2 linked regions of the Homo sapiens genome follow. The protein of the gene in region 2 interacts with the protein of the main gene of each other region in a pairwise test. Each region holds a gene or a part of one and is shown on either strand. Other genes may lie near its edges.

The links.
Region 1: the proteins of IPO13 (region 2) and ARX interact in a two-hybrid assay, tested with the Homo sapiens proteins (one large-scale study listed by BioGRID and IntAct).

Annotation. Positions count from the first base shown.
Region 1 is NC_000023.11:25,005,719-25,009,531, forward strand, and holds part of ARX (homeobox protein ARX), read right to left. Parts: intron 1,722-3,813; coding exon 1,393-1,721; intron 1-1,392. UniProt on the Homo sapiens protein: Transcription factor. Binds to specific sequence motif 5'-TAATTA-3' in regulatory elements of target genes, such as histone demethylase KDM5C. Positively modulates transcription of KDM5C.
Region 2 is NC_000001.11:43,956,757-43,960,569, reverse strand, and holds part of IPO13 (importin-13), read right to left. Parts: intron 3,761-3,813; coding exon 3,594-3,760; intron 3,376-3,593; coding exon 3,255-3,375; intron 3,169-3,254; coding exon 3,021-3,168; intron 2,594-3,020; coding exon 2,412-2,593; intron 2,329-2,411; coding exon 2,302-2,328; intron 2,110-2,301; coding exon 1,975-2,109; intron 1,825-1,974; coding exon 1,681-1,824; intron 322-1,680; coding exon 241-321; intron 1-240. UniProt on the Homo sapiens protein: Functions in nuclear protein import as nuclear transport receptor. Serves as receptor for nuclear localization signals (NLS) in cargo substrates.

The sequences.
Region 1 (3,813 bases), on a different chromosome or scaffold from region 2:
TGCCCAAGCCTGGGACCCACGCCAGCGCCACCGCCTCCAAGCGGCGACCGAATTACTCCACGTGACGCTTCCACCCCATGCACACAGCACCGGGACATTAGCTGTGGCCGGAGCCGCCCGGGGCCACCGGACACCACCCCCACGCCCACCGCCTTGGAGCGCCCGCGAGCTTTCCCGACCGCCTCCCTGAGGGGTCTGGCTCCAGGCCCGCGGGGCCAATTCCGGATTTCCAGGGTTAGAAATGAGCCCACCTGGGCTCACCGAGCGCCGCCTCCTTCTCCCAAGCCCACTGCTCACTCCTCGCACCACCCCAGCCCAGACCCTCTTCCAGCCTCTCCGAATCTCGCAACTCGGTCCTCCAGCCACGGTTCGCCTGGGTTTACAAGTCACTTGTCAGAGGGAAAAAGTGGAGGGAGGGGAGAGACAGAACTTTAAGATTTTTCTCAGAAAGAAATGATAAAGTGTGACCCGGAGGTGGCGTAACATGCCCTGGTTCCATTAGGTAAACTGAGTCACTAACTCTGCTTCAGTGCGCTCGCTGTTTATTTTATTGGTTTGTTATAAGAAACTAAATTTACTCCGAGTCTTAATTTTCTGTAAGATGATTTTTTGTTAAGCAGCTGCGCAGTTGGATGAATCTATTATTTCTTTGTTCTCCCAAAGAGTGATCATTGAAGCTGCATCCAGTTTTATTTTCACTGCGCTAACACAATACATCCCTCCTTTGTTTCTTTGTCTGTGTGATTATACAGACTTTTTATTTCCTCATTCGATGTTCATTAAAGAAAGGGAGTTATAAGATGAACTGTTTCTTTTATTTCGTTGTCTTGTACTGCCGTGTAGATCGGGGCTTGCACATATGGGGGTGTCGTTGGCAGCGGGTCACTTGAGTGACAAGGAAGATGGAGTCTGGGGCAGAAGAAAGAATTCTGTGCACCCAGAGGGCCTGGTGGCTCCAGGGCTCCCATGGGGATCAGGGCTGTGTTCCTCAGGCTGCCAGGTTGGGGGGCATAAGGAAGAACTTTTGCAAAACTTAAAAAGTCGTCCCTGCTCTGTACCCTACACCTGTACATATTTGCTCGCTTACCACCTATGGTGGGACTTGTTGCAGCCTGCAAATGGTACTTTTACAGCTTTCATTCTCGGTTGTCACGGTTGTCGTTACTGCCACTGCCTTCCCCTTTCCCATTAAGTTCCAAGTCAATACCTTCAAGACCCACATTTTTTTTTTTGAGGCTCAATTAGAGAGTATTTTCTTTGGCTACAGTCTCTGAGGTTGGGTCAAAGAAAAAGATGTGTGTAACCCTGTTTGACTCCTGCCTCCTCCCTGCCCCCAGCCTCTGTGTGTATGAGAGACAGACAGACAGACAGACTTCCGAGGCTGCGCGTTACCTGCCGAATGCCGGGCTGATGAAAGCTGGGTGTCGGAACACTGCCGCTCCGAGGAAAGTGCTCAGGCCCAGCGGCGCCCCGCTGGGCGGCAGGCTGGCCGAGCCCGGAGGCGGAGGTAGGCTCGGGAAGGCGGCGGCGGCGGCGGCGGCAGCGGCAGTCCAAGCGGAGTCGAGCGCCGGGTGGTGCGGAGGGAAGGGGCTGGCGTCCAGGTAGGGGCTGAGCGGGTGGGTGGCGGAGAGCGGCCCCGGGAAGGGCAGCCCAGGGGGGTGGGTCTGCGCGCCTGCCTTCTCCCGCTTGCGCCACTTGGCCCGACGGTTCTGGAACCAGACCTGCAAGGCAGAGAGAGCCCAGGGTCGGCGCGGCTCGGCCCGGCGGGCGCACCGGGCCCCTACCCGTCCCTTCCCTTGGCGCGCTGCGGGGCCCCCTTCCTTTCCACCGCGGCCCGCGCCCACCTGCCCCTCTTTGGCCTCAGGTTGTTTTCGGACGCGTCTGGGGCCAAATGAGCAGTGAATAGGAGCCGCAACTTCAAGTCAGCAGGAAACAGGACAAGCAAACCCTTTCTGCCGGCATTCCACCTGGGCCAGTTTTCCAAGTTTAAGGAAAGTGATTCAGTGTGTTTAGAGTTGGGGAAACCAAAGTTTAAACGTCTGTGCTGACGCTTGCTAGGATCTTTAGGCAGGTCACTTAAACCTCTCTGAACCTCAGTTTTCGAATCTGTAAAATGGGGATAATAAAACTTCACTCATAAGGCTGTTATGAGAACTGGGTAAAATAAGGCAAGTGAAAGCATGCATTCAATGGTGACTCTAGGGAATGGGCAGCCACCAAGAGATGAGGGACATGCTTGTTTTACTGCATATCAGCTATTTTCACCTATTTCAGATTTACGCAAGAGCTGGCAAAATTCTTGCTCTGTATGGAAGAGGAAAGTGGAAAGATAGTTCATTTATTCTTTCCAGAAACATTTATTGAACACCAAAGAGCACTATGCTGGGTTCTGGGGTTCAGAGAGGGATGAGAGGGAGGGAAGAAAGGCTCGAGTTAATTAGCAAGCATACATTTCAGGGGGTCAATCCTCTATGAAATGAAACAGGGATACACAACCTGCTCTTGGCAGGGGATCCCTGCAGGACCCAGTTCTATGCAGGAAGGCACTGACTACATGGATGAAGCAGGCAGCAATACCTGGGCGCATAGAAATCAGAGGGCATGATAGGTGTAGACTTTTCACATCTTCAGAGCTAACAAGTCTTTTATTTCCTTTTGGAGATGTGTTTTAAATCGGCTATTTAAATAAGATAGTTTTAGGCTTGGAGGGAGGTTTTCAGCCTGAGGTATTTTCCTAATTGCTAATAGAAAGCGGTTTTAATGGAGACCTTTACCTGAAACATGGCAGCTACCATCATCTAAAAATAAACCCCAGGAGCATGAAATTATTTTTATGTGACCTGCTCATCACACCCACAGCTGGGAAGATATGCTCCTTCTCCCCTGAAGGCATTAATATTTTTAGGGCTGGGTTTATAACTGCACACAAGTCTGAAAATTAAGAATGAACTCCAGGGCTATACAGAGTTATATTAAAATATAATGTAAATTATCCCAGAGGAATATATTTTAAAATGTGAAACACATCCATATTTTTCAAATCTACACACTGGGGCTTGTTGTTACCAGCACTAGCATCTAAGCTTGGTTTGACTTCTAGACAGCCCCCCAGGGCAAGAAAAATCAAGAATCCAAATCGGTCAATTACTTCCAAGTCGGCCAAAAGGGGGCCCATTCACACCATTCCACAGCCTTCAAAATAATCTATTTGTGAATTTCAGAAACACTTCAGTGTGGAAACCCAGAGGCTTGAAAAAGTAAGACTGTAGATGGGACCGGACTGGGTGGGCAGCTTTTGTGTAGCCAAATCTGTCTAGACAAGAATATCCGCCACTCCTTGATCGCAGTGAAAGAAGAAGGGGAACTGGGGGCAGTGGACTCAGAATGCCCTCAAAGAACGTGGAAACCTTTTTACAGACAGATCGTCTCTCCCGGCTCAACTGCAATTATCAAGATGTCCCCCTGCAATTCCTCATTATTGAATTAATACCTCTGAGGCCCCCCAAAGGTAAACGAAAGGACTCTAATAATTCATATTCACTTAATTACATCTTCTCCAGTGAATAGGGGGAGAGGAGAAAGGGAGGGGGCGCTCTCTTTCTTTTTAAAAGTTATTTAACTTTCCCACGACTTGTTCCCCTGAGCTGAAAATACGGAGTTGCTGTCACATCTCTGTTTGACAATGGAGAAATGTGTCAACAGAAAGGAGGGGACAGGCCTCATCATTAGCCCTCTAATGCAAGAAGCTGTTGTGTATTAAATGAGCCATATGGAATTTATTGTGCTTTATCAGCGCTTGATTTTGACTGTAAA
Region 2 (3,813 bases):
GTGCTAAAACAGATGCCTGACTGTCACTCGACCCTAATATTAGAGTCCTTACGTTAAGCACTTCTCATGATATTGGGGAGTTCTAAATGTCTTCCCAAAAGATTCCTTATCTCTATGGGGCAGGATTCACCTCCCTTGTTTTCTCCAAACCATTGTAAGCTGAAGTGTGGCAGTAACATCTTACCCTGCTACACCTCTGAGCAGTCACTATGGGAGCGGAGGGCAAGGGTCAGGGCTCACCTCCACAACCTGGGCATCATTCAACCATTTGCTCAGCACCTTCTGGATAAGCTGGAAGACCTGCTGCAGCACCACCACCACCTGAAGGCACAGGAAGAAGTGAGGCGCTTCTGCTATCCATCACTGTGACCCACTTGAGGAGGACTTGGTGGCAGGGAGGAGGGGAGCAGTTCAGACCTATTACCCCAGAACACACATTGAGGACCCAGGGCATGGGACCCCTGGGGGAAGAAGTGGTTTGCTGAACTCTCTCATGAATGAAAAAGGAGTATTTCCTGAATTCTAGGGATCATCTCAAAGGAAGCCTCAAACTGCAAAGCAGAGATATCACAAGTGCTTCATAAGGTTACAAAAACTTTGTAAACTTAAAAAAAAATCTCTCCCTATCTCTGCTCTGTAAAACCAAGGCTATGGGCTAGCCTCTGAAGAAGTGGAGATGCTATCTCCTCCAAATAGGCTTGAGGTAGGGAGCCCCAAGGAATGCACAGATGCAGGCTTAAGCTGCTCTCCCAGCTTATGGAGGAGCAGAGAGCAGACTGAGGTCCTGGGAGGTGAGGAAAGGCAGGATGATGACTACCATGTAAAGAAGCAGCTCTGTGGGATGACAGTGGCCCAGGGGTGGTCTAAAGCCAAGAGGCTAACTGAAACTGGGTTGGGGAGTTAAGCAGAGAGGCCAGGATGCCTATGGCTTCCTTTTCTCCTGGAGAAATCTGGGAGGGAGTTCTGGGAACAACGACTAAAGCAGTCCCTTATATTTGTAAAGAACTTTACAATATGCAAACTACCTTCACTTAAGACCACATCTACTATCCAGCACAGTTCTATGAATTGAGTAAGCCAGACATTTCAATGTTCATAGTTTTTAATGGGAAGCTGAGGCTTGCCCCAGATCAAGCAGCTTGTAAGTGGTCACCCCAAAACCTATGCCCAAGCTTACCACAGGACTTATCACACTGCTTTGTGACAATTTGAGCAACCTGAATTTCCTCTACACTGGGAGCAACTTGAAGGCCAGAACTATTACATGCGGAGGAGGTAATGAGCATCCTTAGTGCCCACAGGGGACAGTAAATGTTGAAGTAGAAGGCCCTACAGAGCTAGGGGTTGAACAGGGGCCCATAAAATCACTTAAGGGTTGAAGGATATAACGTCAATGTCCCTCATGGGGCTGAGGAATCTCAATGACATCACCCTAATTGGGCTGGGGACAAGGACAACATCACACACAGAGCTGAGTGAGATAATGACATTGCTGCCTACAGAGTGAGGCAATTATAGGTCATTCATGGAGTCAGAGGACCAAATATATCACGCCCACGGGGCAGGGAGAACAATGACAACATTACCCACAGAATTGAAGAGTGACAATGACATTCCCACAGGTGGGGGTTGGGGGGATGGCAAAGACAAATGTCTTTGCCGTGGGCAAATGTCACCCACGGGGTTGGGTCCCTGTGGCACTGGCAGCTTCCGAAGCTCAGGGCCTTCATGATCATCCTCATGATGACTGATGTCCAGTGTGGTGAAGAGGTTGGAGAGAAGCCCCAAGATGTGAACAATGGCCAGCTTGTTGGAGGGATTGGGCTGCAGGGAGAAGCAAACCAAGCTCCAGATCTCCCAGCCCCAGTTTGGTCCCCAGATCACTGAGCCTCAGCTCTGAGGGCCAGCTCCAACCTCACCCCTCATCAGCCACAGCATCTCAGTACCGCTCCCTGGCCCCCAGAGCTCACTCACTATCTCCTCTGCCAGCTTCTCCAGTTGCTGGATATAGGGTGAGATAAGCGAGTGCAGGTTCTTAAGGATCTCCTCCACTTGAAGAGCTGACAGCAGGAAGCCCAGCGCCTGCATCAGCCACATGCACTGGCTTGTCTGTGGGGCAGAACATGGATGGTCAGTCCTGGCCACATCTAGTTGTGGGGTAGGAAGGAAAATGAGCCTCTTGGGAGAAGAAAAACAGAGAATAAGGGATAAGAGGAAGGGGAAGGCCAAAAAACAGGATTTCAGGGATAAGTGATTCCCACAAGACCTCCAAGGAGACCCCTAGAAACTTTTGAGCCGCACCTTGTGGATCTGTTTCATCAGCACATCCTGAGGGGAGAAAGAAGGAATGTAGTATCAGCACAGTGCAGAGTGTGCTCTGAGGCCCAGCACCATCCAGGGCCCCTGCATACCTGGGACACAGCCACAATGTTGGCAGCATAGGGAGGCAGGTCATACTTGCACTCTCGGCAGATCTTCTTGAGGGTGGACACAGAAGAGACAGACAGCTCAGGATTGCCTAGGGCATGCAGTACCAAGGGCAGAACACTGTTGATCATGACGGGGTGGTCAGCCAGCCATTCAGACAGAGCTCCTGGAGGAAGGAGGGAGACAGGAGGATCTTTGAGGCAGGCCAGGCTGGCTTTGTACCATGTCTCTGAGGCAAGCAGAGTTCCTGGCAGGGTCAAGTTGCAGCCCCAGCACAGAGTACTGCCCCATTCAGAGGACATATGCATGTGCATGCTCAAACATGAGCCTTACAGCTGAGAAGCAGGAAGGGGTTACTCAACAGAGGCCCAGTACTGCTGTTTCACTGACGGTAAACTAGCCTCACTGAATTGCAGCTCAGTGTGCCATCAGATGGACCCCCTAGACCTGCCAGGACAGTCAGTTTGTTACAACACTGATTGTGTGTAGGCATGTGGCTCTCCCATTCTGGATAGGATCCAGCATGCTGGCTGTGGCCAGGGTTGGGTGCTGTGGCTCTGGGAATATGGTCATGGGTGTGTGCCAGGTCTCACCAATGGTGAACATGACAGTGTCTGCCAGCTGCACGTTGCTGATGCTGATCCGTGGGATGAGGCCAATGAGCCCAGGCACCACATCAGAATAGTTGACGTCAATGGTCTCTGCGATGGATTGGAAGCCGTAGAGGAGGGCCTCTGTGTGCTGGGGAAAGAGGGTGCCACTGGCTTGGATGAGGAGGAGGGTGTGACAGGTCTGGGAAGGCTGAGGGAATCAGGCTTGGGAGGTACCTGCCAGGAGTAGGGCTCCTCTGAGCTGGTGAGCAAACGACCCAGCTTGTCATAGAGGTTGCTGAGCAGCTCGGCCCCCAACATCTCATAGACATACATGAGCGTGTCTGAGATGTCCACCCTGAGAAGCAGATGAAGGCCTTTTATACTGCCTGGATCCTGACCCTGGATCCTGCCCCCAAGCCCAGGAGCCTACCCCAGTACCCCCACAACTCTGCAACAATACCTAGAAAACAGAAAGGAGCACCAAAATTCAGAAAGCCTGGACTTGGGCCCCTTCCCTCATTGCCTTCATTATTTCTGGACTCCATTTTAGAGGAGTTGGCCTGCTACCATCACCTGTAAATTCGGAACTGCTCCTTCTCGTCTGAGGACCAGAATCCATATTCCTCATCAGAAGGGAACTGGGCCTTGTGCAGAAGCACATCCACCAGCTGGAAGTAGACTGGCCGGTACACCTGCTGGTATACAGCCTGCTTCTCTGCCTCAAAGGATAGAATATCATCCTGAGAGAGCCAGGGAAGAGAATTAGCCACCTCACCAGCAGTCATAGAAGCCC